4 separate regions of the Homo sapiens genome follow, and all the other regions are reported to be linked to region 2. Evidence: microRNA targets listed by miRTarBase, many of them from high-throughput screens and not tested one by one. Region 2 holds a microRNA gene; each other region holds the end of a gene's coding sequence.
The links. The annotated mature microRNA hsa-miR-1236-5p reads UGAGUGACAGGGGAAAUGGGGA and lies in region 2 at 2,053-2,074, opposite strand. An mRNA with a match to its seed (bases 2 to 7 or 8) in the 3' UTR can be bound and repressed. Matches are read on the target gene's strand: a 7mer-m8 pairs with bases 2 to 8, a 7mer-A1 pairs with bases 2 to 7 and ends in A, and an 8mer does both.

Region 1: the mRNA of LYPLA2 is a reported target of hsa-miR-1236-5p. Seed matches in the 3' UTR shown: 7mer-A1 at 1,099-1,105 and 7mer-A1 at 1,111-1,117.
Region 3: miRTarBase lists ARHGDIA as a target of hsa-miR-1236-5p. Seed matches in the 3' UTR shown: 7mer-A1 at 5,854-5,860.
Region 4: miRTarBase lists IST1 as a target of hsa-miR-1236-5p. Seed matches in the 3' UTR shown: 8mer at 1,131-1,138.

The regions. Positions count from the first base shown.
Region 1 is chr1:23,793,940-23,801,089 of GRCh38, forward strand. It overlaps LYPLA2 (lysophospholipase 2), which reads left to right. Exons shown (of 10, transcript NM_007260.3): 7 at 124-197; 8 at 285-386; 9 at 488-661; 10 at 743-1,600. The coding sequence ends at 793. It overlaps GALE (UDP-galactose-4-epimerase), which reads right to left and starts at 6,815. Exons shown (of 12, transcript NM_001008216.2): 1 at 6,773-6,815; 2 at 5,427-5,497; 3 at 4,948-5,073; 4 at 4,676-4,791; 5 at 4,178-4,291; 6 at 3,756-3,932; 7 at 3,095-3,208; 8 at 2,937-3,003; 9 at 2,758-2,843; 10 at 2,570-2,647; 11 at 2,212-2,326; 12 at 1,660-2,068. The coding sequence starts at 5,068. The coding sequence ends at 2,010. RefSeq lists silencers at 6,226-6,325, 6,376-6,855, 7,016-7,150.
Region 2 is chr6:31,954,866-31,962,013 of GRCh38, forward strand. MIR1236 (microRNA 1236) reads right to left here and starts at 2,075; the gene lies at 1,974-2,075. It overlaps NELFE (negative elongation factor complex member E), which reads right to left and starts at 4,106. Exons shown (of 11, transcript NM_002904.6): 1 at 4,027-4,106; 2 at 3,507-3,589; 3 at 2,076-2,145; 4 at 1,828-1,973; 5 at 354-428; 6 at 194-231; 7 at 1-27. The coding sequence starts at 3,581. It overlaps SKIC2 (SKI2 subunit of superkiller complex), which reads left to right and starts at 4,310. Exons shown (of 28, transcript NM_006929.5): 1 at 4,310-4,349; 2 at 4,432-4,535; 3 at 5,145-5,254; 4 at 5,355-5,472; 5 at 5,567-5,681; 6 at 5,801-5,875; 7 at 6,176-6,229; 8 at 6,331-6,521; 9 at 6,682-6,810; 10 at 7,044-7,148. The coding sequence starts at 4,328. RefSeq lists an enhancer at 6,900-7,148.
Region 3 is chr17:81,862,166-81,869,315 of GRCh38, forward strand. ARHGDIA (Rho GDP dissociation inhibitor alpha) reads right to left here. Exons shown (of 6, transcript NM_004309.6): 5 at 7,008-7,071; 6 at 5,556-6,910. The coding sequence ends at 6,711. LOC124904086 (a long non-coding RNA gene) reads left to right here. Exons shown (of 2, transcript XR_007065950.1): 2 at 998-5,591. Among named protein-coding and RNA genes, the nearest start is that of P4HB, 5.2 kb to the left of the region's middle. RefSeq lists silencers at 2,068-2,362, 5,380-5,439, 5,790-5,879, 6,590-6,639 and enhancers at 3,280-3,329, 3,939-4,567, 5,198-5,826, 5,827-6,456, 6,457-7,085 and 1 more.
Region 4 is chr16:71,926,784-71,933,783 of GRCh38, forward strand. IST1 (IST1 factor associated with ESCRT-III) reads left to right here. Exons shown (of 10, transcript NM_001270975.2): 10 at 831-4,416. The coding sequence ends at 1,030. PKD1L3 (polycystin 1 like 3, transient receptor potential channel interacting) reads right to left here. Exons shown (of 30, transcript NM_181536.2): 28 at 6,637-6,738; 29 at 3,269-3,400; 30 at 2,755-2,895. The coding sequence ends at 2,755. Among named protein-coding and RNA genes, the nearest start is that of IST1, 35 kb to the left of the region's middle.

The DNA of each region.
Region 1 (7,150 bases), not on the chromosome of region 2:
CAGCCCCTCCTCCACATCCTCCTTCCCCTGCCCCCCAGGAAAGCGCTGGGCGGTTCCTCAGCCTAGCTCCCTTATTGGGCCCCTTGGCAGCTTCCCTCTACCCACTCATGCCCCCTCCCCCAGTCAAGGCCTTGATTGAGCATGAAATGAAGAACGGGATCCCTGCCAATCGAATCGTCCTGGGAGGCTTTTCACAGGTGAGGGGAGAGGGGTGGGGGGGTAGGGGGTAGGGGTGGCCGGTGAGTGAGCTGTGCCCTCATGACCCCTCTCTCTCCTCCCTCCAGGGCGGGGCCCTGTCCCTCTACACGGCCCTCACCTGCCCCCACCCTCTGGCTGGCATCGTGGCGTTGAGCTGCTGGCTGCCTCTGCACCGGGCCTTCCCCCAGGTGAATGTCCCCACTGACCCCCCCGCCCTTTGTGTCTGCATCCTCGTGGCTTGGGGACTGCTGCAGCACTAGCTTTGCCCTGAGTCCTGTCCGGCCTCCAGGCAGCTAATGGCAGTGCCAAGGACCTGGCCATACTCCAGTGCCATGGGGAGCTGGACCCCATGGTGCCCGTACGGTTTGGGGCCCTGACGGCTGAGAAGCTCCGGTCTGTTGTCACACCTGCCAGGGTCCAGTTCAAGACATACCCGGGTGTCATGCACAGCTCCTGTCCTCAGGTCAGTGGGGGGACCATTTCCCACTCCCACTTCTCTGCCTCCAGCCAGGTGCCTCTCGTGATCCCCTCTTAATCCCCTCAGGAGATGGCAGCTGTGAAGGAATTTCTTGAGAAGCTGCTGCCTCCTGTCTAACTAGTCGCTGGCCCCAGTGCAGTACCCCAGCTCATGGGGGACTCAGCAAGCAAGCGTGGCACCATCTTGGATCTGAGCCGGTCGAGCCCCTGTCCCCACCCTTCCTGACCTGTCCTTTTCCCACAGGCCTCTGGGGGCAGGTGGCAAGGCCTGGCCGGGCCTTCCTTCCTGGCCTTAGCCACCTGGCTCTGTCTGCAGCAGGGGCAGGCTGCTTTCTTATCCATTTCCCTGGAGGCGGGCCCCCCTGGCAGCAGTATTGGAGGGGCTACAGGCAGCTGGAGAAAGGGGCCCAGCCGCTGACCCACTCACTCAGGACCTCACTCACTAGCCCCGCTTTGGGCCCCCTCCTGTGACCTCAGGGTTTGGCCCATGGGGCCCCCCCAGGCCCCTGCCCCAACTGATTCTGCCCAGATAATCGTGTCTCCTGCCTCCACTCAGCTGCTTCTCAGTCATGAATGTGGCCATGGCCCCGGGGTCCCCTTGCTGCTGTGGGCTCCCTGTCCCTGGGCAGGAGTGCTGGTGAGGAGGTGGAGCCTTTTGAGGGGGGCCTTCCCTCAGCTGTTTCCCCACACTGGGGGGCTGGGCCCTGCCTCCCCGTTACCCTCCTTCCCTGCAGGCCTGGAGCCTGTAGGGCTGGACTGAGGTTCAGGTCTCCCCCCAGCTGTCTCACCCCCACTTTGTCCCCACTCTAGAGCAGGGAGGCAGTGGGGGAGGAGTTGTGTCTCGTCTTCTGTCTCCATGTGGTTTTTGGGTGTTTTTCTTGTTGTGTCCTGGATTCCGATAAAATTAAAGAAATTGCTTCCTCAACGCTCAGGCCTGGCTGATTCTATTCCAGGGGTGGATAGTGACCATCTGTGAGAACCTGCCCCAGTGTAAGAAAACTTGTTTTTATTTTTAAATACTTTGGAAAGCTCTTTCAGAGCAATATAAATGAGTGCCTGGGAGGAGGAGGTTTTGTGCCAGAGCCTTGCCCCCTCACTCACTCTTGGGGGTCCTGATGAACTCTTGGACCCTGTGGAAGATAAGAGTTAGAGACCTCGGCCTCCTGGTCAGTGGAGCCCTTGGCCTCATGCCTGGTGGGCTAAGCGGGCCCAGCTGGGGTTTGAGGTAGGGGAGGCCTTGGCTTGGCCCCAGCAGCTCCAGGGCCCTGAGTTCCTGCCAGAGGCTGGAGAGCAGGCAGCTGCTGCTTTTCCTGGTCCTTGGTAGGGGAGGGTCCTCAGGCTTGCGTGCCAAAGCCTGAAGGATTCTGCTTCTGCCAGCGCCAGAGATCCTCACCTGCAACACGGCGAGGTGTGTGCTCAGGGCCCACGGTGGAATGCAGAGCCTCCCCCACCCCACAGCCCGCCCTGGGTGGGCATGCCCAGATCTGATTTAGCCCCTCCCTGGCCCCTAACTGCAGGGGTCAGGCCAGCACTCACACATCCTGTCCAGCCCTAAGGCTGCTGTCCACCCCAGCTCCTCTTGGGCCAGGCTGGGGTTGGCGTAACAGGCTGCCACATCACCTTCCCGCCGTGCCACCACCTTGTACGGGATCTGCAAGACAGGAGGTAGTTGGAGCTTAGCTGAGCCGGCCCTGGCCCAGCTGCTGGCCAGGTCTTTAAGAAGCAGAAGTGCAGAGCAGCGGCTGGCCCGCAGGCACCGGGTGCTAGGCAGGCTGAGGAGACTGGGCAGTGCCAGGTACCCTCCAGAGAGGTGAGTGGGAAGGGCCAAAGCTGCTCTGTTGCTGAGAGCTGGGTGGGGTGAGGTGGGTGAGGTGGGTGGGGCGGGGGGGCCTACCTTCTTCCCAGAGGCCTTCTCCATAGCCTGGACCATCTGCAGCACTGAATAGCCTGTGCCCGTGCCCAGGTTGTAGATCTGGCCCACGGAGAACAGGGTTTATGGAGCGGGCTGGACTGACCACGCCTCTGGGCCGCTCTGCCTGGATCTGGTCCCTCCCCTCCCTCACTTCTCCCTTCTCTTCCTACCCGGCAGCCACACTGTTCTTTCAGCTTCCTTAAGGCTGCAATGTGGCCCTTGGCCAGATCCACGACATGGATGTAATCCCGGACACCTGCAGAGAAGGGAGTGTGTTGGATGGGGAGTCTGTTCCCCCTGACTCTCCTTCCTGGCTCCCACTCCTAGGTCCCCCTGGTCCTAGGCTCACCTGTGCCATCCTCTGTGTCATAGTCATTGCCAAAGACATTCAGGGCCTCCCGTCGCCCGATCGCCACCTGGAGGTGGAGATCAGGTCAGTTCGTCCCAGATCCCAGGCACCAGCTTTAACCCCAGGGCCACTCCTCTGTCCCTTCCCTTTTGCCTTACCTGGGAGACATAAGGCATGAGGTTGTTGGGTATGCCCTGGGGATCCTCACCAATGCAGCCAGAGGCATGGGCACCTGTGGGGTTGAAATAGCGCAGCAGCACTGCGTTCCAAGTCTGTGGGATGTGGGTCAGGTGGTGAGGCCAGAGGCACAGGCAGCGTGTCCCAGCTGAACCCAGAGCCCTCCTCATGCCTATTCTGTTTTTTTGAGATGGAGTCTCACTATGGCCCAGGCTGGAGTGTAGTGGCCTGATTTGGCTCACTTCAACCTCTGCCTTCCAGGTTCAAGCAATTCTTGTGCCTCAGCCTCCCGAATAGCTGGGACCACAGGCACACACCACCATGGCCGGCTAATGTTTGTATTTTTAGTAGAGATGGGGGTTTTACCATGTTGTCCAGGCTGGTCTTGAACTCCTGACCTCAGGTGATCTGCCCACCTGGGCCTCCCAAAGTGCTGAGATTACAGGTATGAGCCACTGCGCCCGGCCAGTTGTCTATTTATTATCTTTAGAAACAAGCAGGGGATGGGGCCCTCCACTGCAACTGCCTGAGCCTTAGCTTCCTCCTTAGTGGGGGTGTTCGGAATCCCACCCCTGGGCTCAGGGTGGGCCCTGAGGAGTCCATCGATCAGTGGAGCCAGGGCACTGTCAAGGGGGCCCTCACCTTGTCTGCCTGGCACAGGTCCCGGATCATTTCCTCGATGAAGAACTTGGACTTGCCGTAAGGGTTGGTACAACCACCCGTGGGGTGGGCCTCATCAAGGGGCAGGTACTGGGGGTTCCCGTACACAGTGGCTGAGCTGCTGAACACCAGGTTCTTCACCCCGTGGGCCTTCATGATCTGGCCGTGGAGAGATGGCATCAGTGACCTCTGCCTCACACATTACTCCCACCCTGTTACTCCTCCACAGGAGAATGGGGCTGAGGTGATGAGCACTCTCATTTACAGATGGGGAAACTGAGACTGGGAGGTAAAGACATGAGTCCAGGATGATACAGCTTGGGCTCTGTGTTTGGCACTGCCTGCCAGGCTGGGGTCCAGCTGGACACCCTCCTAGTGTCTGTGCCCTGTCCCATGCCTCTCACCTCCAGAAGCTGGATGGTCCCGGTCAGGTTAACTCTGTAATAATCCAGAGGCTTCTGCACCGACTCGCCCACGGCCTTGAGCCCCGCAAAGTGGATGACCGCCATAAAGCTGTACTGCAGGGGTGACATGGCCAGAGGTTGCTCTACTGGTTTTAGTCCTTGGCAATGCCCTCAGCCTGCCTGCCTGCACTCACCTTTTTTTTTTTTTTTGACAGTCTCGCTCTGTTGTCCAGGCTGGAGTACAGTGGTGCCATCTCAGCTCACCGCAACCTCCACCTCCCAGGCTCAAGCCATCCTCCCATGCCAGCCTCCCGAGTAGCTGGGACCACAGGTATGGGCTACCATGCCCAGCTAATTTTTGTATTTTTCTGTAGAGATGGGGTTTCACTGTGTTGAGCAGGCTGGTCTTGAACACCTGGGCTCAAGTGATCTCCTCACCTCGGCCTTCCAAAGTGCTGGAATTACAGGCGTGAGCCACCGTGCCCAGCCTGCACCCACCTTTTTGAAGAGACGCTGTAGGGCTCCCTGGTCCAAAATGTCCATCTCCTCAAACTCCACAGAGCGGCCTGTCAGCTCCTGGACCCGCCGCAGGCTCTCAGGCAGGGAGCCCCCTCCTGGTAGGGTACATGTAGGCCACATCATCACGACATGGGGTGCTGTGTTCCCAGGGACTAGCCAGACACACATTCCCCGCCCGGTGGTGGAGGTGGAACCCAGGGTTTTGCTTCTGCCATCCCCTCAAGTAGCCCCAGCCCCACTGCCCCGCTCACCACGGAAGGCATTATGGAAGTTATCGATGACCACAGGCAAGTAGCCAGCCTCCAGCAGCTCCAGCACCGTGTGGCTGCCAATGTAGCCAGCCCCACCTGTTACCAGCACCTTCTCTGCCATGGCACCTGGCCCAGGATACAGAGTCTCAGAGGTGGCTGAGGCTGCCTGCTCAGAGCTTCCTTCCCACTGGAATCCTGCCCCCTAAGCTCGCTTTGGAAGGAGGCGGCAGTGTGCCCTAGGTACCAGACTGGCTCAGAAGTCAGCCCTGGGGCAAGTCTGGGTACCATCACTTTCTGGCCTTAGGCTTTGGAAATTAATTAGCCTCTTGGCCTCAGTTTCTATCTCTGTAAAACAGAGCTAATAATTGTATAAACTTCATGAGGCAGCGTGAGGGTTCAGTGAGGTGATCTTAAGGGCCCGCCACAGCAGAGCTGGGGAGACCTGACACACAGGCACCTTATTTTCTAGTTCCACTTGCCTTGGAGTTGGAAAAGATGGAATCTGAGGATCCACACTTCTTTGTCCAAGGTGACTGAGGACTGGAGAGTCCTGGGCAGAAGGAAAATGGCAGCACGATTGGGACTCCAGGGTCGCAGGAAGGGGTTCTGTCTGCTCAGACCCAGGCTTGTCCAATGCCTCCGCCTTCGCTAGGTGTAAACTGGCTCCTGGGCGCAGTGACTAATACCTCCTGCTCTAGGCGGCCCCCACCCCCTTTCCCTCAAGGGTCAGCTGGGAGGAAGCAGGAAATAGATCACATGGCCTCAAGGGTGAGGTCCTTTGCCAGGCAGGCTGAGGCCAGCTCAGGGGCAACCACACCGTGGTTGGTCCTGGAGGGGGCCCCACCCCAACCCCCGCTCAGCCTCTGCCCATGCCAGGGCCAGCCCGGTCACTCCTGGCTCAGAGTTAGGAATCCCGCCCAACTTAGGCTACTCTGGGTGGGCCGTGTAGACGTGGACTTGGCCAGGTGCGCACCTCCACCCTGAACAAACTCTGCGGGTAGTACGGGGAGGAAGCCCCAGACACTGAGGCCTTTCATTCCCAGCGACCGGGCCCGCTGCCGCCTTCCTCCACGCTGCCTCTATCCCCTTCTGGGCTCACGCAGCTCCAACCCACTTGACCAAGAGCCCTCTGCGTGCCAGGCTCCGTACCAGGCACTTTTGCATGATTTTCCTGAATTCCCCCAGCATCTCGGTGAGACAGGTGTTATCACTGGCACTTTACAGATACAGATACTAGGGCCAGAGAGGTGAAACAGTTGCCCTTCGGTCCCACAGCTGGCGACAGCGGGCTGGAATCTGGATCGCCAGGCTCGCAGCCCGGCCCTCTCCCCAGGCGGCTCGCCCTTCCCCCACCGCTGCCCGCTGGACTCTGCCCGCCGCGCCGAAGCCGCCCCCGCCCCCGCCCCGCGCCTGGCGCGGACCCCGAAAGTGGTCGCAGAGAGGCCCTGGGAAGCACGAAAGCTGGTCTGAGGCCGGCTGCGCCCCCGACAGCGGAGTGACCTTGCTCAGCCGTCGCCCACTCGGTTTTCCCAGTCTGTCTGTTGGAGGGAAGGGGAGCTAGGCCGTGGGCATACGAGGGCGGCTGGGTCTCAGGCTGGGCTTTGGGCTGTAGCGCGGAGCGGGGCCGAGCTAGGAGTCCTCAGGCCGGCAATGAATGAACCCCGGCCGCCCCAGCCCGGGCAGCGGGGAACTGGGACAAAGGGGGCGGGCCTGCCCTGGAGGGACGCTGCCAGGAACACGACCCGCCCCTCGGAAACTCCCTCGCTCCCCGCGGACTCCCCGGCCCCTCGCGAGCCCACCCGGCCCTTCATTCCGTCTCCCGAACCTGCTCGGGTTCCCGCGCCCCACGCTTGCTGCAGAGGCACCGCCTCCTACGCCCGAGCCGCGGGCCCTTTAAGTGCTGACGGCCCACTCCGGCCCCGACCCCGCCCCTCCACGCCCCCAAGGAAACATGTCACTCGGGTTACGGCCACTACGGGGAGGGCGGGAGGACAAAAGGCCTCCGCGCTGTGACGAAGACTGCGCAGCGCGCGCCCGCGGAAGGCGGAAGTGGGCGGTGCCACCCCGCGAGAGGCGCCGCCGGCGCCAGGTCCCAGTAGCGGGTGGGTCCTTGCCGGTGCCCCGGGTCCCCGCGCTAGCTCGTCCCAACCCCTGGAAGAGGGCTGCGCTTCCGAGGGGGCAGGGGGCAGAGGGTAGGGGGCCC
Region 2 (7,148 bases):
CGAAGTCGATCACTAGAAGACACAAAGCTGGGGAGATGCAGACTGAAGATCAAAGGGGGGTTTTACCTTCTCCCCTCAGACCCTGTGGAGACTCAATATTCCCTCTATAGCCCAGCTCCTACAGCCCAAACCTCCCAAGGACTCAGGCAATCAACTCCACCAAATGGGCCCAGCCTTATCTCTACTCTCTAACCTCTCATACAGAGATTTCCTCTGGGGACGTCTGGATGACTGTAAAAGAGACCAAGAACAGTTAAGATGATTTCCAGTTGCTGACATGTGGTCCAAAATATATTTGTCTCTCATATTCCTCCATCCCCAACCCCTCAGGGACAGAAATTAGGAGCCTTTACCTCTTGCAGGTCATCATCAGCAGATATGCTCCTCTGGAACGGCTGGAAAGTGGGGACTGGTCCCTTCTCGGGGTCCTGGAGTGGTGAGAGACCTACCTCAGTGTGGAGCAGGAGGTTGCCCAACCATGGACCAGAGGTGTTCCTCTTCCCTCACCCTCTTCTAGGTTTCCTCTGATCTTTTCTTCCCTTTTAATTCTACATACATTTCTTATTTGACGTGGTTTTACTTATTTTTTTTTTTTTTTTTTGAGACACGGTCCTGCTCTGTTGTCCAGGCTGGAGTGCAATAGAGCAATCGTAGCTTGCTGCAGCCTTGACCTCCCATGCTCAAGCAATCCTCCTACCTCAGCCTCCCTAGTAGCTGGGACTAGAGATGTGCTCTACCATGCTTGGCTAATTTCTGTATTTTTTTTTTTTTTTGTAGAGATAGGGTTTCACTATGTTGCCAGGGCTGGTCTCAAACTCCTGGGCTCAAGCAATCCTCCTACCTCGGCCTCCTAAAGTGCTGAAATTAACCAGGAATGAGCCATTGCCGCACCTGCCATTGTGGCTTGTTTTGTTTTGTTTTTGAGACAGAATCTTGCTCTGTCGTCCAGGCTGGAGTGCAGTGGTGTGATCTCCACTCACTGCAACCTCTGCCTCCTGGGTTCAAGTGATTCTCTGGCCTCAGCCTCCTCAGTAACTGGGACTATAAGTGTGCACCACCACATTCTGCTAATTTTTTTTTTTTTTGAGACGGAGTCTCGCTGTCACCCAGGCTGGAGTGCAGTGGCACAATCTCGACTCACTGCAAGCTCCGCCTCCTGGGTTCAAGCAATTCTCCTGCCTCAGCCTCCCAAGTAGCTGGGACTACAGGCGCCCGCCACCACGCCCGGCTAATTTTTGTATTTTTAGTAGAGATGGGGTTTCACCTTGTTAGCCAGGATGGTCTCGATCTCCTGACCTCGTGATCCGCCTGCCTCGGCCTCCCAAAGTGCTGGGATTACAGGTGTGAGCCACCGCGCCCGGCCTCACACCCTGCTGATTTTTGTATTTTTAGTAGAGACGGGGTTTTACCATGTTGGCCAGGTTGGTCTTAAACTCCTAATCTCAAGTGATCTGCCCACCTCAGCCTCCCAAAGTGCTGGGATTACAGGCATGAGCCACCACGCCCAGCTGGTATTTTTTATAAGTGACTCGATATATTATGTATTCAGTTTATTTGAACCTCTCTTGAACCTGATAACATTTTCAGCCCTTTCCATCCCTTAGGGCAACATATTCCAAGAGCTCCAATCCAAGGTGGATTAGAACCACAGAATTTGTAAAATGGAGAATTCAGGAGTCGTCTAGTTTTTTCATTTTATACATGAGAGGTGAAACTCAGAATGGTACAGCAATTTGCCAGTGCTTGAGTATGCATATTTTTCCCCAAACCCATCTACATTCCAACTTGGAGGGATGCCCTTTAAACAATCTTTCTGCTTGTGCTCACCTTTAACTTCCCCTCAAGGGTTCGAGAACGCTTGAAGCCTGAGTTCTTGGTCTCAGCCTTGATGGCACTGATGGCTCCTGACTTCACCAGCTGCTTTGCCTGCTCTGTTGCTGTGGCTGTGTCCATGACAGGCTGCTCTGATAGTGCTGGAGAGACAAGGGGAAGAGGCATTATGTTGGCCAAGCCATGATGAAGGTCAGCTCCATGCTGCCCACTTCCAGTCCATCCCCATTTCCCCTGTCACTCACAGCGTTTGACACCACCTTGGCTGGTTGTGCTGCTGCTACTTTGCTTCTTCAGAGCCAGCAATGCCTTTTTCTGGGAACAAGGGTGAGAAGAGAGAGGTAAGTGAGGGCCAGCCCCTAGCCGGTTCCTCTCCTAAGGCCCCTGGGCACATCACTCCAGGGACCGTCTTTCTTGATGCCCTCAGAGTGGTACACTGATGTGCTCTGCCTCTTGCCTCTGGTCCCCTAGATCATGTATGATGCTGGAAATTCCTAATCTAACCAAACCACGGAACCCAGAGGTTTTCCAGAGTGTTACATTTTTGAAGTTGAAGACAAATAACTCAATCATGGACTAGAATCCTAGGATATAAGCTGCAAGTAAGTATAAGTTTATGTGCCTTTCCTGGAAGCTTCATCCATCTATTTCCTGCATATTGAATGAGGCCCAGCCATGACTTCGTAACAGGGATATCCAGGAGGCTAATGCATTGTTCCTACCCTCAAGAAGCTTACAGTCTGAGAAATAAAATACATTGAGTTAGCAATACAATTATAAGAGGTGCAGATTATTCATAGCTGAAAGCTAGTAAGATTTTCTGATGTTTAATGGCTATTAAACTAGGCCCTCTCCCGTATCTCTGCACAACACAGAGAGGAGAAGGGTATTTTAGAAAAAGAAAACAGGGTGGCAAAGATGCAGAGATAAGAAGGCTTTGGGAATGCATCTTTTGGAAGTAGTGAATAGTTCTACTTTACTAGACAAGGCTGCCAAACTAAGGTTTTGAGGCTTTTTTATAGACAATGTGAAGCCATTTATGGTTTTTGAGAAACAGAGGGAGCAGAATTTTGTGTTTTCAATGGATCATTTGAACAGGAGTGAAGAAGTCTGTTCAAAAAAAAAGACTGAGAAATTTGTTGAGAGACCATTACAATGGCCCACATGAATGTCAATAAAGCCCTGCTCGGGGGAATGCACAGTGAAGAATAAACAGGAAAAATTACTTCAAAAGAAGAAACAATAAGACTTGGCAAAGGTTTGACTATGCAAATAGTGGGGAAGTCAGAGTTTTGAGTCCAAACATGTGGCAGAATTGGTGTAGTCAATCTTATTTGGAAGATCAAGAATAGAAAGATGATAGCTTCAACACTGAGTATCTGAAGTTTTTCAGTATAACACTGGATAGAACTGGAAAAAACAAACTTGGGGATCATCAGCTCTTAAGCGGTACTAAAAGCCATGGGAAAGGAAGACAATCCATGGCAAATTGCATAGAAAAGACAGAAGGTCCACACCAAGGCTTGGGAAAGCCCACCTCTCGAAGCTACACTGTGAGGTGATATGTCTCTAGGTATGGGCCAGAAAAACTTCCCCATTCGCTCACACTCACCCCATATCTTCTCAGAGTGCAGAGTCTGTGAAAGGTTAGGCCATGTCCACACACAGTCCCTCACCTTTTTCTTGAGCTTGTTGAATTTCTTCTGCAGAGCCTCCTCTTCCTCGCTCAGTCCGGGGGGTATCACCAACATGGTGGCTCCTAGTTCAGGGGCAGGGCCCAAGACATCTTTCTCCACTGTTACCACCCGGGGTTCACACGCCGTCCACACTGTACCCAACCCCACCCCTTCAGGTCTGCCTACTCTTGTCTTTGGCTTTCCCTACCCCTTGCTTAAACCAGGCTGCTGTCCAAGCTCCCGCTGGTCGGGATCATCCAGCATTCCCTCCTGTCTCCAGGGATCACAGACACCAGCACCTTTAGGTACCATGTGGTTCAAGGAGGGACAAATATCCACTCCGTCGGAAAGACGATGGCACCCGACCCCCCTACCCTCGCTAGGGTAAGGACAACCGCGGGGTTTGAACGGCAGAGAAGGCGGTGGAGCCAGCGTAGCGCCCGCAGAGCAACGCAAAGAGGAAGAACAGAGAAACGGCTATGAGAAAAAGGGCCGAAGAGTGAGAAGCAGAGGGCCTTACCCGAGGGGGCGGCAACCGGGGGCCCCACGGTCTCCGGCCGCGCCCGCGCTGGCCGCTGATAGCGGGCTCACAACGATGACGTAGCGAGGAGCGGAAAACGCGGTAACCAAGGCGGCCCCAGGCGCGCACTTCCGCCCGGCCTTCCACCGGTCCAGGTCTGCCCCTCCGCAGCGATAGTTCACGCTCTCGGCGGGGCTGTACCGGAAGTTGCCTCTACTTCCGCCCGTTCCGGGGCGGGGCTTACTTCGCAGCGACTACTTGCCGCACTTCCGGGCTGCCAGGCAGCTGCTGTGGCTCCAGGATGATGGAGACAGAGCGACTTGGTGAGGGGGAGGGGAGGGAAATGGAACGGAGTAGCCGATATGGAATGAACTTTGACCCCTGACTTTTGACCTTTCCCCGTAGTGCTACCCCCTCCAGATCCCCTGGACCTACCCCTTCGGGCCGTGGAGCTCGGATGCACGGGGCACTGGGAGCTGCTGAACTTGCCTGGAGCTCCAGAGAGTAGCGTGAGTGACTTTTGACCCTAACCTTTGACCCGCATTGAGTCCAAACCTCCTTCACCCTCCTCACAGTAGGATCTAGCTTAACCTTGTTCATCTGTGCCTGTACTCCTGTCCATCCCAGCCTGAAGGGGTGCTGGACAGATTACAGCCCAGTGTACCTGCAGTACATGTGAGGACAGAGCAGAAAGGGCTGGGGATATTTTTGCTTTGAGAGCTGCTCTTTCAAATGTGGCATTTCTCCGTGGAGCTCCCTTCTGTATCCAAGCACCAGGGCACTTGGTGACTGAGATGATAGGCTTTGAGCCTCCAACCTTTCATCCTTAGGTCTGGGACCCCTTTTTCTAAAATCAGTGAGTCTCCAATTTCAGTGTGCTTCATGATTAGCCAGGGAGCTTTTTAAAAATGCACATTCCTAGGTCCAGCCTCCATGTTTCTGAAATCCAAAATCTGCCCCAGGTAATTCAGTAGCAGGTAGTTTTTGGCCAAGCCTGATTGTCCTAGTCTGTTTGACACATCTGCCATTTCTGATCTGAACACAAGTCCCATCATCTCTTTTGTCTGCATTTTATCCTCTTTCCTTACCTAATGCCTCTCATCTTGCCCTTGTTTCAGCTTCCCCATGGCCTCCCTCCTTGTGCCCCAGATCTGCAGCAAGAAGCAGAACAGTTGTTTCTGTCATCCCCAGCCTGGCTGCCTCTGCATGGTGTGGAGCACTCAGCCCGGTGAGGAGTCTGGAGGGGCTTAGACTAGGGTGATGGGTTCCTGAAGGAAGCTGGGACAGAGGAAGAAAGAAGACCCAAAAGTTACTATTTTTCTCTCCAGAAAATGGCAGAGGAAGACGGATCCCTGGTCTCTTTTGGCTGTCCTGGGAGCCCCAGTCCCATCCGACCTACAGGCCCAAAGACACCCAACCACAGGCCAGATACTGGGTTACAAAGAGGTAGGAGGTCAGGGGTCATGAGAAACAGTTGGGGAGAAGGGGAGGTGGTCAGAGACAAGCTCAGCCTCATTGGGGCTCTGATCTCTTGCCTTAGGTCTTGCTGGAGAACACAAATCTCTCGGCTACAACCTCCTTGTCTCTTCGCCGGCCTCCAGGGCCAGCCTCCCAGTCCTTATGGGGAAATCCAACTCAGTATCCCTTCTGGCCAGGTGACTCTTGTGGAGATGGGATGGTAGAAGAGGGTGTCTTTAATCTCCAGGGAAGGGTTCCCCACCTATCTCGTATTACCCTCATCCCATGAATCCCTGTCTGTCCTGTCTCTTCCCAGGGGGGATGGATGAACCCACCATAACAGATCTGAACACACGGGAGGAGGCTGAGGAGGAGATAGACTTTGAGAAAGGTAAGGTGGGGCTCTGAGTCTGAGCCTTGAGGAGGAAGAGCCCAGGCTATCACTGGGCTACTGCTAGCCCTCCCATGTTTTTGAGAAAATTAGAAAAAGATATTCTGTCCATAACAACCTTTACTGTCATCTGCTGGGAAATTTCTACAACAACCTTTACTGTCATCTGTTGGGAAAGTGTCATAGCAAACATCCCTATCTACAGCATCTGTCCTGTAAATGGTATCTTTTAGGTTTATATAATGTACACAATTTGTTCACCAGTGTGCAGTGACCTGATTTCATGTCCCTATCCTACAGATCTTCTTACTATTCCACCTGGTTTCAAGAAAGGCATGGACTTTGCACCAAAAGGTTAGTTTTAGTTTTTGAGTGGGGTGTAGGAGAAGTCATGTCCTTCTCCTAAGGAACAGAGATGGACATGACAAGGTTGACCTTGTTGGCTTGCTCCTCAGATTGTCCAACTCCAGCTCCTGGACTACTAAGCCTTAGCTGTATGTTGGAGCCTCTGGATTTGGGTGGGGGTGACGAGGATGAGAATGAGGCAGTGGGACAGCCAGGAGGTCCCAGAGGGGACACTGTTTCAGCCTCTCCCTGCAGTGCTCCCCTGGCCCGAGCAAGCAGCTTGGAAGACCTAGTGTTGAAGGTTGGTGGTTCTGTGTAGTGGAGGCAAGAAAGAGCCTTGCCACCAGGATGTGGGCTGGCTAGGATGGGTCTGAGGGGAAGAAAGGGACATCTTTTGGGAGGAGTGCTAATTGAGAGCCCTCTGGTTGTATCTTTATCACTGCTACCCCTGACTCTTCCAGGAAGCGTCCACAGCTGTATCCACCCCAGAGGCCCCAGAGCCTCCATCTCAGGAGCAGTGGGCCATCCCTGTGGACGCCACCTCCCCTGTTGGTGATTTCTATCGCCTCATTCCCCAGCCAGCCTTCCAGGTACTTTGGCCCCATCTTCACACGCTCCTCTACCTCTTTCTGGGTCACACTCCCAGCCGACCCCTTGTCTCCTCTATTGGCCAGAGGTCAGATCCATCCCAGGCCAGTCTTGGTACTCAGTCCCAGCCTCGGCTGGCTCCGGCCTTCATCCGCCCGCCCTGCGTGCTCCATGAGCAGGAGGCAGCAAGGCCCCGCTCCTTTCTTCAGCTCCTGTCTATTTCTCTCTCCCATAGTGGGCATTTGAGCCAGATGTGTTTCAGAAACAGGCCATCCTGCACTTGGAACGGCATGACTCTGTCTTTGTCGCAGCTCACACATCTGCAGGAAAAACAGTTGTG
Region 3 (7,150 bases), not on the chromosome of region 2:
AATATTGAGGCCAGGTGCTGTGTGGCTCACTCCTGTAATCCCACCACTTTTGGAGACCGAGGCAGGAGGATCCCTTCAGCCCAGGAGTTCGAGACCAGCCTGGGCAACATAGTGAGACTCCCGTCTCTACAAAAAATAAATTAAAAAAATTAGCCAGGCACGGTGGTGTGCACCTGTGGTCCCAGCTACTTGGGAGGTGGAGGTGGGAGAATCATTTGAGCCCAGGAGGCTGAGGCTGCGGTGAGCCATGATCCCACCACTGCACTCCAGCCTGGGCGACAGATCGACACCCTATCTCAAAAAATAGTAAAAAAATGTCCTTTTTTTAAAATTTTTATTTTTTATTTTTTTGAGACAGAATCTCACTTTGTCATCCAAGCTGGAGTGCAGTGGGCGATCTCGGCTCACTCCACCTCCCGGATTCAAGCGATTCTCCTGCCTCAGCCTCCCGAGTAGCTGGGATTACAGGCATGCACCACCATGCCCAGCTAATTTTTGTATTTTTAGTAGAGACAGGGTTTTACCATGTTGGCCAGGCTGGTCTCGAACTCCTGACGTCAGGTGATCCACCCGCCTTGGCCTCCCAAAGCGTTGGGATTATAGGCGTGAGCCACCGCACCAGGCCTCCTCTTCTATCTTTTAACGTGGCTTTTAGAAACTTTTAAAATTACATAGATGGTCTGCATTTTGTTAGTGTTGGACACTGGCAGCCCTCCGTCTCCCTCACTGCCTGGAATCTGCTGCTCTCCTTTTCCCCAGGTGCCTGCCCTCTCCATTCCTCCTCACTTTCCTCCGCTGGGAATCGGCACCGCCACTGATTTTAAAGTTGAAACTTGGCAGGCAAAAGGGAGGTACTCCCATGTTAAATGTATACACATTGACTGCAATAGTATCCTGACTTTTGAAATGGTAAAACGTAGAGTAAGTTGCTTTTGTACTTTGAGAGTTTCTGTTTGTTGATCAGTTGTTCCTGAGAACATGCTTCTCCTTCCGACAGGGAACTCCCTCCACTAGAATATGAGCTCCTTGTGGTCAAGACTGGGTCCCCTGTTCCCTTCCCCCCAGTGCCAGCGGAGCAAAGGTCAGTCAGCGGCATAAGTTGTACCTGCTGGGAGAACTGTCTGCTTCCTCCGGGTGACTTTTCTGGCCAAGAAGGAATATGAGTATGTGCCTCCCTGAGCACTGGCCTGGAGCCCACTCAGGAAACACCATCTCTTCATAAATGGTTTTGATTGCAGGCATTGTTCCTTCTGCTCTCTGGATGATGGAAATTGCTTCAGGTCACTGCACTATCTTCCAACGTTTTTGTGGTTGCCATGAGCTGTTGTACAGACCACAGTTTGGGGCCTGAGACAAGCTGGGCATGGTGTTGCATGCCTATAATCTCAGCTACTTTGGAGGGTGAGGCAGGAGAATAGCTTGGGCCCAGGAGGTCTAGGCTGCAGTGAGCCATGATCATACCACTGCACTTCTGTCTGCGTGACAGAGACCCTGTATCTTACATAAAACCCCAGCCCATATTTGTACCACATCTAGATACGAGGTCAGAGTTCAGATGCCTAAATATTGTAGCTTGTGTTTTGTCCACTGTTGGGGGAAGAGTGAAGAGATTTGACATACCATAATGTTGATTAGCTTGTGATGGTTTGGCGGCAGCTTAGGCCAGAGCATAAAGTAAAAAGGAAAAGTGTTCACAGACAATGAAAACTGGGACCAAGTGGTGAATACTCAAGGCACACAGACCAGGCAAGGATCCCAGTGGCCGTGGATGAGTCTCAGGCTGGCTCTGGGCCAGTGGAACACACCTCAGTGTGGGTGAAGGCCTAGCCAGGGTAGCAGAGGGCAGGGCTACAGAACAGCAGCCCAGGTGGCTGTGGCCGACCTGACATTCTCCTGTGAAAATCAGGTGCCCAACCAGCACTAATCTAGATAGATGGCAGCATTTTTTTTCTTTAAAGACAGGATCTTGCTATGTTGCTCAGGCTGGTCTTGAACTCCTGACCTCAAAGGATCCTCCCCTCTTCAGCTTCCCAAAGCACTGGGGTTACAGATGTGAGCCAGCACGCCCAGCCGAATCACAGTATCTTAGACAGATGCCATGGCTGCCCATAGGGTCCTCTCAAGGTGCCTCTGCCCTTGGACTGGCTTCCTACACCAACCTGACAGGTGCAGCAAAGGTGGACTTTCTGGTAAGGCTGGAGGAGGAAGCCTGGTCTGCGATGGCCTGAGACGCCCTCTATGGGGGTTGTTGAGTGGATGGAAATGTGCAGGGCATGGGTCCTGCCCCCAAGAATGCAGGCTGGTTCCGCTGGGCACCTGCAGAGGGCTGATGTCCTTTTCCTGAGGCCTGCTCCTGTGCCTTCTAACCCTAGGGTGAGAAGATGGGCTGTGTTCACCTCATGCCCAGGCCCTTCGAGGAGTGTGCCCTTGGGGGTCAGAGCCCTCCTGTGGCTGGTATTTCTTTGGATCATCACAGGTGCTCCAGACATCCTTTAGGGAGTCTCAGGCTTGGTGAAGGGATCCATTAAATGTTGCTTAGTTGGTTTTTGTTTGTTTTTTGTTTTTTCGAGACAGAGTCTCCCTCTGTTGCCCAGGCTGGAGTGTGGTGGCGTGATCTTGGCTCACTGCAACCTCCACCTCCCAGGTTCAAGCGATTCTCCTGCAACCTCTGCCTCCCAGGTTCAAGCGATTCTCCTGCCTTGGCCTCCTGAGTAGCTGGGATTATAAGCGTGTACCACCAACCCTGGATGATTTTTGTATTTTTAGTAGAGGCAGGGTTTCACCATGTTTGTCAGGCTGGTCTCGAACTCCTGACCTCGTGATCCTCCTGCCTCGGCCTCCCAAAGTGCTGGGATTACAGGCGTGAGCCATCATGCCCAGCCAACTGGTTTGTGATTAAATGTTTTGATTGATGCAGTTTTTGAAATGTACTGTGTGTACAATATTACTCTTTTGAGACAGGGTCTCACTCTGTCACCTAGGCTGGAGCACAGTGGTGCAGTCATGGCCCACTGCAGCCTCTGCCTTGTAGCCTCAAGTGATCCTCCTGCTTCAGCCTCCTGAGTAGCTGGGACTACAGTTGTGCACCACCATGCCCACCTAATTTTTATTTTTTTAAAGATGGGGTCTCCTGTGTTGCCCAGGCTGGTTTTGAACTGCTGAGCTCAAGTGATCTGCTTCTGGCCAGCTACTACTCTTAAAAGTAGAGTTCTCAGAGCAAAACAGCTCCCTTTCAACCTTCAGTCCGGTCGAAGGTGTGGTGGGGGTAACAACAGCAGGCTCATGGATACCTGGGCAGTGCTCCGAGGTCCCTCCTGTGTTCCCACTGAGCAGCAGCCTGCTGTGCCCGGAGTGGAGGTGAGAAATCCAGCAGCAGCGCGGTGGTGAGTGTGGGCCCTGCGGAGTGTGGCAGGCGCTCATTATGGTGCAGGGCAGTGTTGGGCACAGAGAAGGTTCTCAGAAACCACAGTAACCCATGGTTAGTTGGTCACATCCCAGACCCTGACCTAGCACTGGCTGGCACTGTGACTTGTCACTCTCCTGAATGGAAGAAGTGTCCACCTGGGGGTGGCTGAGGAGGTGGATGCTAGGGGACTGCTGGGAGCCACGGACCTGTGGAGGTTGGGAGAGGAGACTGCAGGCGCAGGCTGCTGGAGGCGAGGAGGCCTCTCTGGAGCGCCAGGCCATACAAACAGGTCCCAGGTGGGGCCACGAGGATCAGGTTAGACTTGGGACCCGAGAGACACGTCATGCCCACTGTGCAGGTGCCACCTCATGTTATCCTGCACCAGGGGAGGGGCCAGCCCAAAGTCCTGGCTGCTGGCAGCATGCCCGTACAGCTTGGCACCTGGGTCTGAGTTCACATGTCTAGCAAAGCTGGGAAAATCCAGGAGCAAGAAGGTGAAGCCCTTTGGCTCAGCCCAAGCTCAGAAGGCCCTTGCCCGATGAGCCGAACTGCTGACAACACCCTGGCACTGGGCTTGGGGACTCCCCTGGAGCATGTAAGAAGTGAACTGGGAGCGTGGGAGAAACTGTCTGGCAGGGGCTGCTGCCTCGGAGCTCATCCTCCCTGGCTGTGCTGGTGTCTGTCCAGTGGGATTAGCCTCCATCCTGTGGTTTCACCACCCCACCGCCTCTCTCCCCCACAGCACAGGCAGAAGCAGCAACGCAACACGAGACCACCTCGCTTGGGGCTAGTAGCAGTTCTGGGAAAGGCTCGGTAGGGTCTTTGCTCCCTGCGGAATCAAGGGCTGGGGGCTGACCCAGGCTTTCTCTATAGCTGCTTCCAGATCTGGGTCTGGACCAGCTTCTGCAGGAAGGCACCATTCTGTTGGGGTGTCTGACACGGTCAGCTCTAGGCTCAGCCTCTGCGGCCCCCACAAAGGCCTAGCAAGGATGGGGCAAGGTGGCAGTGGTGCCCGCACGCACTGCCCTGGCACAGGTGTGTAGTTAGTGACCTGAAGCATGAGGGCATCTCCCTGCCCACCCCAGCTGGAGATAAGCCCCTTGCGGGGCCCACCCTGCTGATAAACCCCAGAGCAGTATGGCCTGTGTCAGAATGACCAGTAGGAGGGCCCCGGGGTAGCAGCTGCCCAGCCCAGCTGCGTGTGTGTGTGAAGTATTTTCCTCAACACCTTATACCACAGAAGGCAGATTTTGAAACTCGCATCAGGCCAGAAAAAGAATTTCTGAATGGACACTTCTAAGGGGTGCCTGGTTACTCATCTGCCTCTTCCCCCTGCAGGGTAGAGGGGCATGGGTTTGAAGTTCCCGGGGGCTCTTGGAGACTGCAGACACGGACGAGCTGGGGTTCCTGGATGCTGCAGCAGTTGGGGCCCCTGGCTGAGCGCACCTGCCCCAGGAGGCCCTGCGTGGTTCCCCCAGTAGCCCCTTCACACCACACCGCAGTGAGGATGCCCTGTCTCCTGCCGATCCCATCACACCAAGCCTTTTCGCTGTTGGGCTCCTGGCACTGCCCGATCCTGGAGGGCACTTGGCTGCGGCTGTGGCTGTGAAGGGCTGGTGCTCTAGGCGCCTCCGTGGCCCCCGTTGCCTGGGCACCTACTTCCTGCCTCAGCCACAGCTGCATCCACGTGCGCCAGGGGCCACAAGGCCGACCCTGGCTTGGGCCTGTTCCTCCCTGGGTTTCCTTGGGATCCAGTCATTGGAGGGCCCGCGCACAGCTGGGCCAACTCGACACCTCCAAGCCCGGCCAGGGAATCAAGCAGCTCTCCCTCTGGCAGCATGAGCTACACAAGCCAGGCCCGTCTTCCCATTCCCTTAGCAAGGAGGGGCAACCCCAGCCAAGGCCTTCTGCACTGTTCTAGACTGTTGCTGCCTAGGGCTACTGTAGCTGGGAGTCACATTCCTTTCTCCCCAGATAGTTGCAAGGGGCCCAGCAGCCACAGCACTTCAAGGGGGCCCTGCCCTTCCCCTCCCACCACCCCACCAGGGTCCCCATCTTCCCCTTTGTCTCCTAAAGCCCGTGAGGCAGTAGAGGAGCCAGGCCCTCCCCTGCCACACCCTGGAGAAGCCAAGCAGCAGACACCCCCAGCTCCTTCAGGGGCATTTATTTCCCGGTCAGAAAAGAAGCAGGGACAGGCGCCTCTGCCTGAGCCTGGCAGACACAACACGAAGACCGGGGATGGGGCGGGGGAGGCACAGGAGACGGCTCTCAGCAATGTGTGCACTTGGTCCCTTGTTTGTTCCTGGCTGGGTCAGGGAAGGCCTGCCGGGGGTGGTGGCACTGAGAGCCTGGGGGAACAGGCGCCAGGCCAGTGGCCCAGGGACGGCACGGACGGAGGCAATAAATACTGATGGCCAGGCGGGGCTCCTGGCTGGGCCCAGGTGGGGTGAGTGAGGCTGTCCATCGAGGGCTCTTGGGGGGGTGTGGGCTCTGGGCACTGCCCGCTGAGACAGAAAAGGCAGAGGCAGGACAATACCCAGCCTCCTGGATGGTACTGAGGTGACTTGAGTTTTGGCAATTTGGCTTTCCCCAAGCCGCCGGAGCCATCTCCACAGCCCTGTCCAGGGAAGGGGGCAGGCTGGCCAGGCACTGGTGGGCTGGGGAGCAGCAGCAGCACACCCCACGTGTCCCTGGGTCACTGGGTTCGCCACCGGGGAAGGGACGGGGAGGCCACATGCTCATGCAGACACAGGGAGTTAGAGGCTAGTGAGGCCCCACGGTACACTCCACATGTTAAGGCATCATGGTTAGACGGGACCGACAGCGACAAGGGGGCTGGCCAGGGAGCAGCGGGGCTGGAGGACGGCCCGGCCCCCACGAGGCCGTGCATCCCACACCCCAGCTCCACCCCGGAGCAGCAGACGCACACGTCCAGGGGCAACCACGGGGCCTGGAGAATGGCTGCTCCGCTCCCTCCTGAAGCCAGGCCTCGGGTGTGACGGGGAGATAGAACCTGGGGGGCACAGAAAGGGCAGCAGAGGCCTGGCTGCGGCCTCTCTCCCCCACAGCACAGGCAGAAGCAGCAACGAGACAGGAGACCGAGGAGGCTGGGCCTGTGGGTGGGGGAGGGCTGAGGAGGGGGGTCGGAGGCACTCGGTTGAGCCAGGCCAGGGAGGCGGACCAGGGTGGGAGGGGCACGGAGGGCCTGTCAGCACTTTGGTATGGGGAGGGGAGGGGCTGGGGGGGACACATCCGCCTGTCCGTCGTCCGTCCGTCAGTCTGCCCTGCCCGCCTCTGGCTGGGCTCAGTCCTTCCAGTCCTTCTTGATGGTGAGATTCCACTCCCAGGACAGGTGGTCGGTCTTGTCGTCGTCTGTGAAGCGGGACTTGATGCTGTAGCTGCCCCGGGCCAGCATACCCTTGGGTGCCTCCTCCACGGGGGTCAGGAACTCGTACTCCTCGGCCCGGGGCCCATAGCTGCCTACCATGTAGTCAGTCTTGTCAACTGCGGCACAAGGAAGAGGGCGGTCAGCGGCCCCGCTTCCCCGCCTGGCAGCACGCACCCAAGCGGCCCCCTCTGCCCTGCCCGGGGCCCCACTCACTCTTGACGCCTTTCCTGTACGTATGCTGGATGTACTTCATGCCGGACACTATCTCTCGGTTAACCTGCAGGACCCGAAGCGAGGATCAGGGAAGGTCGGTCCGGACCCCAGCCCCAGCCCCGCCTCCATTCCCTGGCCACAGC
Region 4 (7,000 bases), not on the chromosome of region 2:
TTGTAATTTAGTTTTCCTGAATCTAGAACTTAAGGAAACATACAGTAGATGTGTGTGGGGGCATGATCTTAATATAAAATACTAGATGGAAGACTGGAAATACAGATCAGACTATTATAACAAAATAACTTGGACATTATATTCCTTTAAAAAAACTTTGCCCCCAATCCCTAAAGAATGTTGGTTCTTAAGGAAGCAGTGTTTGTTCTATCAGAATCCTATTATCACTCCTTGGACTTAGTTGGTAAAGTAACAGACCTTATGAAAAGGAACAGTCGATTGCTCTGTGGATGTGGCCCCATGTATCCCACTTTGATTTCCCTTAAACTTTTTTCTCACCACAGGAAAGTAAAACAGGATTCAACCCTAATTAGAAAATGTAGATATTAACTGTCATTCAAATGTTTATTAGCCTCTAGAATTAACTTTTTTTTAGCCAGATGCGGTGGCTCACACCTGTAATCCAGCACTTTGGGAGGCTGAGGTGTGTGGATCACTTGAGATCAGAGTTCAAGGCCAACCTGGTGAAACCCTCTCTCTACTAAAAATACAAAAATTAGCCAGGTGTGGTGGCATGCGCCTGTAATCCCAGCTACTCAGGAGGCTGAGGCAGGAGAATTGCCTGAACCCAGGAGGCAGAGGTGCAGTGAGCTGAGATCACGCCAACTGCACTCCAGCCTGGGTGACAGAGGGAGACTGTCTCAAAAAAAAAAAAAAAAGTTTGTGAACTAAGGTTTTCTCCTGTGTTTTGATCATTTTATTTTTACTGCCAAAGGGGATCTGAGTCATTTCTCTGGTATTTGTAACGTTGTGCTCCTTGCCCTAATTAGGTCCTGGACCCAAGCCAGAAGCCTCTGCAAAGCTTCCTTCCAGACCTGCAGATAACTATGACAACTTTGTCCTACCAGAGTTGCCATCTGTGCCAGACACACTACCAACTGCATCTGCTGGTGCCAGCACCTCAGCATCTGAAGACATTGACTTTGATGATCTTTCCCGGAGGTTTGAAGAGCTGAAAAAGAAAACATAGGTCTCTTAAACCAGGCAACTTTCACGTTTTGGGAGTTGAGACTGAGCAATTTCTCCTTGTAACAAAGAATCTCCATGAAATTCTGTTTCATCTGTTAACCGTCACTCAGCACAACACTCCCTCTGGGCTCTCTTCCTGCTCCTCCAGATTCTGCTGCTTTCCAGTTCTCTGTTGATCCTGAGACTAACAATTGGAGACTGAGGCCAGAGCAACTGGCTCCTGGCAGCTGTGCTTGTCCGTTTCCTGTCAGAGTGATCCCAGGTTTCCTCCTGGCCCGTCCCATGGTCCCTCCACAGGAGTGTGAGAGGATGGGGGAAGCACTGTGGGAAGACCACCAAAGATGGCTGGACAGTGGGAGAGAGCACGTTGTGAAGCATCCCAGCCTCGTGTTGAGGTTCCAGACTTAGAAACAGACCCCTCTGTACAGGGGGATTGTGGTGAGTGAGAATCAAGGCCACCTTGTGTGTTTTCTCACTCTCGAATGCAAGTGGGAGAGGGAAAATGACTCGGGACGCCATTGTAACGGTTCCTGGAAGCTGGGCCCTCTCATTGGCATATACAGTACTCCTCGCTGCAGGGCACTGTCCCACCGGGATCCAGTTGCAAAGTTTGTCTTGACAGTTGAAGGCCTCGCTTAGTTGTACTGGATTCTCAGGGAGCCCTCTGTGGCCTTTTGCTTTGCGTGCTGTTTCCCTTGTACCAGAGGGCGGCACCGTGGAAATTCTGTTTTCCCTGTAGCATATTGTGTTGGATTGCATTACTGGCAGAGAAAGGACAAGGTGCCATTCAAGTCCTAGGGTGGGCTTCCAGCTGCCTTAATAGAAGTACTCAAGTCTTTTGGGTAGTGAGCTGGAAAGCCTACAGGAAAAGAGGGGTACCTGTTTTCATTTGAAAACTTTGATTCATGGAACCTTTAAAACTAATCTCAGAAAAATTTTTGGTGCCCATGCAGCTGTAGTTGTTCACTGCTTTCCTGGATGGATGGGACTCTTATGTCATAACTTCTGTTACTCCTTTGGCCCATAGCTAAGGTCATCCTTCCCCACAGGGGTGGCTTTGGGATTGGATGATACAGCTTTTGCTTCTGTGTAGTATACCTGTACATACTTGTTTCAGGCAGCCTTTCTTTAATGTTTTCAGTTGGTTTGTATTCTGTAGCTCAGTAGCTGCTAATAAAGTTAAAGATCCTGTGTCCTGCTTTCTCTACTGTTTGGTCAGATGATGAAGTATAAATCTGGATTTTAGTGGAGAATATTTTAACCAAGTGATCCATGTAAACCAGCCCTTAGTTTCAGGATTCCTGGAGCAGTACAGAGCTCATTTTGATCTCTGTATTTAGATAGCCCAGATAGCATCTGTGAATTTCCTTGGTCTTCCTCAGTGGCAGGGCTCCGCATCTGCCATGCCTCATCCTTGGATGTTTATTTTTAGTAAGTTGCAGTGAGCTCACTTCTGACTGCTTCATTTCCCGCAGCCATCCTGGGCCATGGGTGGTGAGTTCTGTTACTTGCTGCTTGGCAGCAGAGCTAGTTTGTCTCGTAGTATTCTTGCATTGTTAATCCTATCTTGACAGTGCCAAGATCCATAAGAACTTGGGACCAAGGGGATTTTGATTCCTAACTTACAGAATTAAAAACAAAGTATATTATAATTTTAAAGCTATGCCATGCAAAGATAAGTAGTAATACGCTAATAAATACTAAGCCAAGTAGGAGATAACAGGATTAAGGTAGTTCATCTAAAACTTCAGTGTCACTGCCCACTGCTGTCGTGGCTGCTTGCTCAGATGAGGTTTTTTGGGGCCAACTGATTCCTAACAAATTTGAGAGCTTCTGTAGCAGTGTATCTATTAGTGCAGCTTCTTTCTGAGTATTGAAGACAAAAAGAGAAAAGTGAGAAAATTGAAATTACTGCTAATAGTGGAGTAAAAAAAGTACCAAAGATTTTTAAAAAATTAGTAAATGTAAAGATACTATTTCTTTAATAATTTGCAGTCAGGCATTGGAGTGTTTCCACTAATGGTTGCGAGCCAACTATTTATAGGACAATGGCTATAGAATATTATGTAGTCTTATAAATTGGGTTTCCTAGGAAGATAGCTGGCAGAGCTTTTGAAACTAATAAAGGGAATATGATACTGTGCATTATAAATTATGTCAGCCCGTCATCTTAGGGGCAGTTACAGTGGAGCTTTCCCAGTGATATAACAGCATGCTAGTTTATCTTTTAGTTACCTACCTTAAGCGACTTTCTTTCTTTTCCAAAGGCCATGAGAATGGCCGAAACGAAAAGATTAATTACCACAAGTACCATCAAGATGACACTGGTGAGGATCAGAAAGGTGCCCAGGACTGGGTCTAAAGCGAAAACCTGGGAAAACAATAAGAACACTTGCAGTGACTGACAATTTAGTTTATACTTTACAAACATAAGCTATATGCTAGTGTTTGGGATCTTATCAGAAGAAAAGCTTATCCGAAGGAAACTTAGGGAGAGAGTCAAAAGATAATAAGAAGGAAAATACTTTTAAATGGACAGAAGAGCAGGAATGACTCATTTTAAGGAGGTTAAGATAATTGTGACTGCAGGGCTTTCACAAGAAAACAGGTGAGTTGCAGTGGAATTGGAAATGATTCAAATGTCACATGAGTTTTGGCAAAAAATACATCTAATCATGGAAGCTAAAAGTGGGAGGGGGGTAAGCAAACACTGAAAGATTAAATGCATACCAGAAATGAGAATGCACACTGTCTCTGCCATATCAAGAAACTACAACCCTAAACACAGGAGCATTCCAATAAAAGTTAACAGGTTGGCCACAGAAAACTGGCTTTTTAGTATTTTTTTTTTTCCATTGTCATTTTTAAAGGTACAAGCATTGAGTTCTGCCATTCTTTACTTTTCTGCATACATAAATATCAAGTTCTGGGCTTATTGGAATGGTTCCCATAACAAAAACTGTTGTTTAAAATTTAGATGTTCTTTTTCAACAAATGGTATTTATTTTCCCTTGGTATTGGCCCATTCATTGTTGCCACTAGGGCACTGTTTAAAAATATCCCAACAGAGGGGTTGATTACAGTCAATGCCACCCTGATGGAAATCTATATGGCAAAATATTTTCAAGCACCAAACTGTTTTACCTACTTAAAAATGATTATTATAACAATTTCAGGTCAACCAGATAATGTGGGCAATCTCTGAGTTTGTGATACAAGACTTATTTCCAATAAGTTTATTTTTATGTACAATTTTACTGTTTATTTTTTGTTTGCTCTATTTGTTTTTTAATGTTTTTTACTTTATGTTTACTGTATTTTTATGTACAATTACATCCAAAGCAGAAAAGTTCCTTTTTTATCCCCAAAAGGAGGTGTCAGCAAAAATTTGTTACTCTGATTACTTCCTTCACAGCTTTAGGATACGAAGTGCTGCAGTGGCAAAGGCTCATCCCCTAGTTATTGGAGCTAGAACCACAACAGAACACAGCCTAGTCAGCCAAAACAGCAGTTACAGTTGTCCCTTAGTATCTGAGAGAGATTGGCGCCAGGGCCCCCACAGGTACCAAAATCTGAGGATGCTTAAGTCCCTTATTTTTATTTTTTAATTGCAAGCTTCCCTAAAGGTTAAGAAAGTGTCTTCTCCCCCACTTTTTTTTTTTTTTTTTTTTTTTGAAATGGTCTTGCTCTCACCCCGGCTGGAGTGCAGTGGCGTGATCTTGGCTCACTGCAACCTCCACCTCCCAGGTTCAAGCGATTCTCCTCAGTCAGTCTCCTGAGTGGCTGGGATTACAGGTTCCCACCACCATGCCTGGCTAATTTTTGTATTTTAGTAGAGACGGGATTTTACCATGTTGGCCAGGCTGGTCTTGAACTCCTGACCTCAAGTGATCAGCCCCACCTTGGCCTTCTAGAGTGCTGGGATTACAGGCGTGAGCTACTGTGCCCGGCTCAAAGTCCCTTTTTAAAAATGGCACAGTATTTGCATAAACCCTATATACATCTCTCTTATACTTGAAATAAACTTTAGATTACCTCTAGTACTTTATAGTGGAACTGCTACGTAAAATAGTTGTTACACCGGTTTGTGGTTTTTTGTGGGAGACAGTCTCGCTCAGAGGGCAGTGGGATGATCATAGCTCATTGCATCCTCACTCCTGAGCTCAAGCAATCTTTTCACTTTGGCCTCCTAAGTAACAGGAACTACAGGTACATGCTACCATGCCTGACTCTTCTACTGTATTTTAAAATGTGTGTTATATTTTATTGTTACCTTTCAAATATTTTCATTCTGGGATTGGTTGAATCTGTGGATGCAGACCCTGCAGATACAACATTAGAAACTGAACCTACCCATTTTAATTAGTAATTTTGGAATTCTAGATCATTAGAATGATCAACCATGATCAAAATCTTGCCAGTTTCACTGCTTAAATGGCAGGTTTTTCCTTGCTTGGTCATATCTACCCTTTACATACCAGGGTTTGGAGCCCAGTGCCTCATTTGGGTTTCCTACTTTATATGTTGAGGAGGAAGGCAGGGATTTCTGTTGGTAGTTCCTGGGAGGAAATAATAGGCTCTCTGAAGTGAGTAGTTATTAACTCAACAGAAATAACGCAGTTTCTCTTAGAACTGTACCTTCCTAATTCTTTGTCACTTCCATTATGTCACTTTTTTTTTTGAGACAGTTTCACTGTCTTGCCCAGGCTGGAGTGCAGTGGCACAATCTCAGCTCACTGCAACCTCCGCCTGCCAGGTTAAGGCAATTCTCCTGCATCAACCTCCTGAGGAGCTGGGATTACAGGTGTGCACCACCACGCCTGGCTAGGCTAATTTTTGTGTTTTTATTAGAGATGGGGTTTCACCATGTTGGCCAGGCTGGTCTTGAACTCCTGACCTCAAAAGTGATCCGCTGGCTTCGGCTTCCCAAAGTATTAGGATTATAGGCATGAGCCACCGCACCTGGCCTTTTTTTTTTTTTTTTTTTTTTTTTAATTTAAATAGACATAGGGTCTGGAGTGTAGTGGCATGATCATGGCTTATTGCAGCTTCCAACTCCTGGGCTCACAGGATTCTCTCTCCTCAGCCTCCAGCCTCCTGAGTGGCTAGGACTACAGGTGCATGCCACCACACCTGGCTAATTTTTATTTTTTATTTTTAGTAGAGACAAAGTCTCTATGTTGCCCAGGCTGGTCTCAAATTCTTGGCCTCAAGCAGTCCTCCCCTTCTTGGCCTCTCATGGCTTGAACCAACTTACCCTACCCTGTTAATGCACTTTCAAGGGGCCATTGAGAAGCAGAGAATCTTGTTAATCTGGCCAAGCACAAGAGCACAAGCTTCGGCTCAGTGTCCTTTGCCAATAAGATTAAGGACACAAGAAGTGAGGAAGGAGGGACTGAGTGCTTAGGAAAGGGCAGGTTTCTGAAAGCAACAGCCATGTAAATGCTGTATGCATAGGCAGTACCATAAAGCAGTAGAGCAAAGGACTGAAATTTTCCCCCTTTTCCAGTGTGCAGTGTACAGTAGGGGGCTGTTTTCATAAGGACCCCCCCAATTTTCCTTGTTCAATATATTGAATTCTGTGAGGAAACAAATTATTATTTTTACCTCCTCTTGGTGAGAAATTCCCATCAGGAGACCAACAACAGTCACTGCTGAGCTGAAAAATGTCCGGTAGTCAGAGATGCTGCATCCAAACAGCAGGTTAAACTGAACAGAAGGAGAAAGGCCAGTTAGTGCAAGCCGAGCGCACATCTTTCTATCCTGAGGTGCTTGGGGATGTGGCCAACATAGAAGCAATGGAACAGAAATTCCTTGTGGCCAAATTATGCCCAAAGAATACATAAACTTCCTTTGTAATAACATAGTGTTTTCATAGAAGTTTATTTGACCTTTATATTACCGTGTGAGCTAAGTTTTATCCCCATTTTAGAGAAAAATATGTGGGTTTAAGTCATACCAGTTAAGTGTG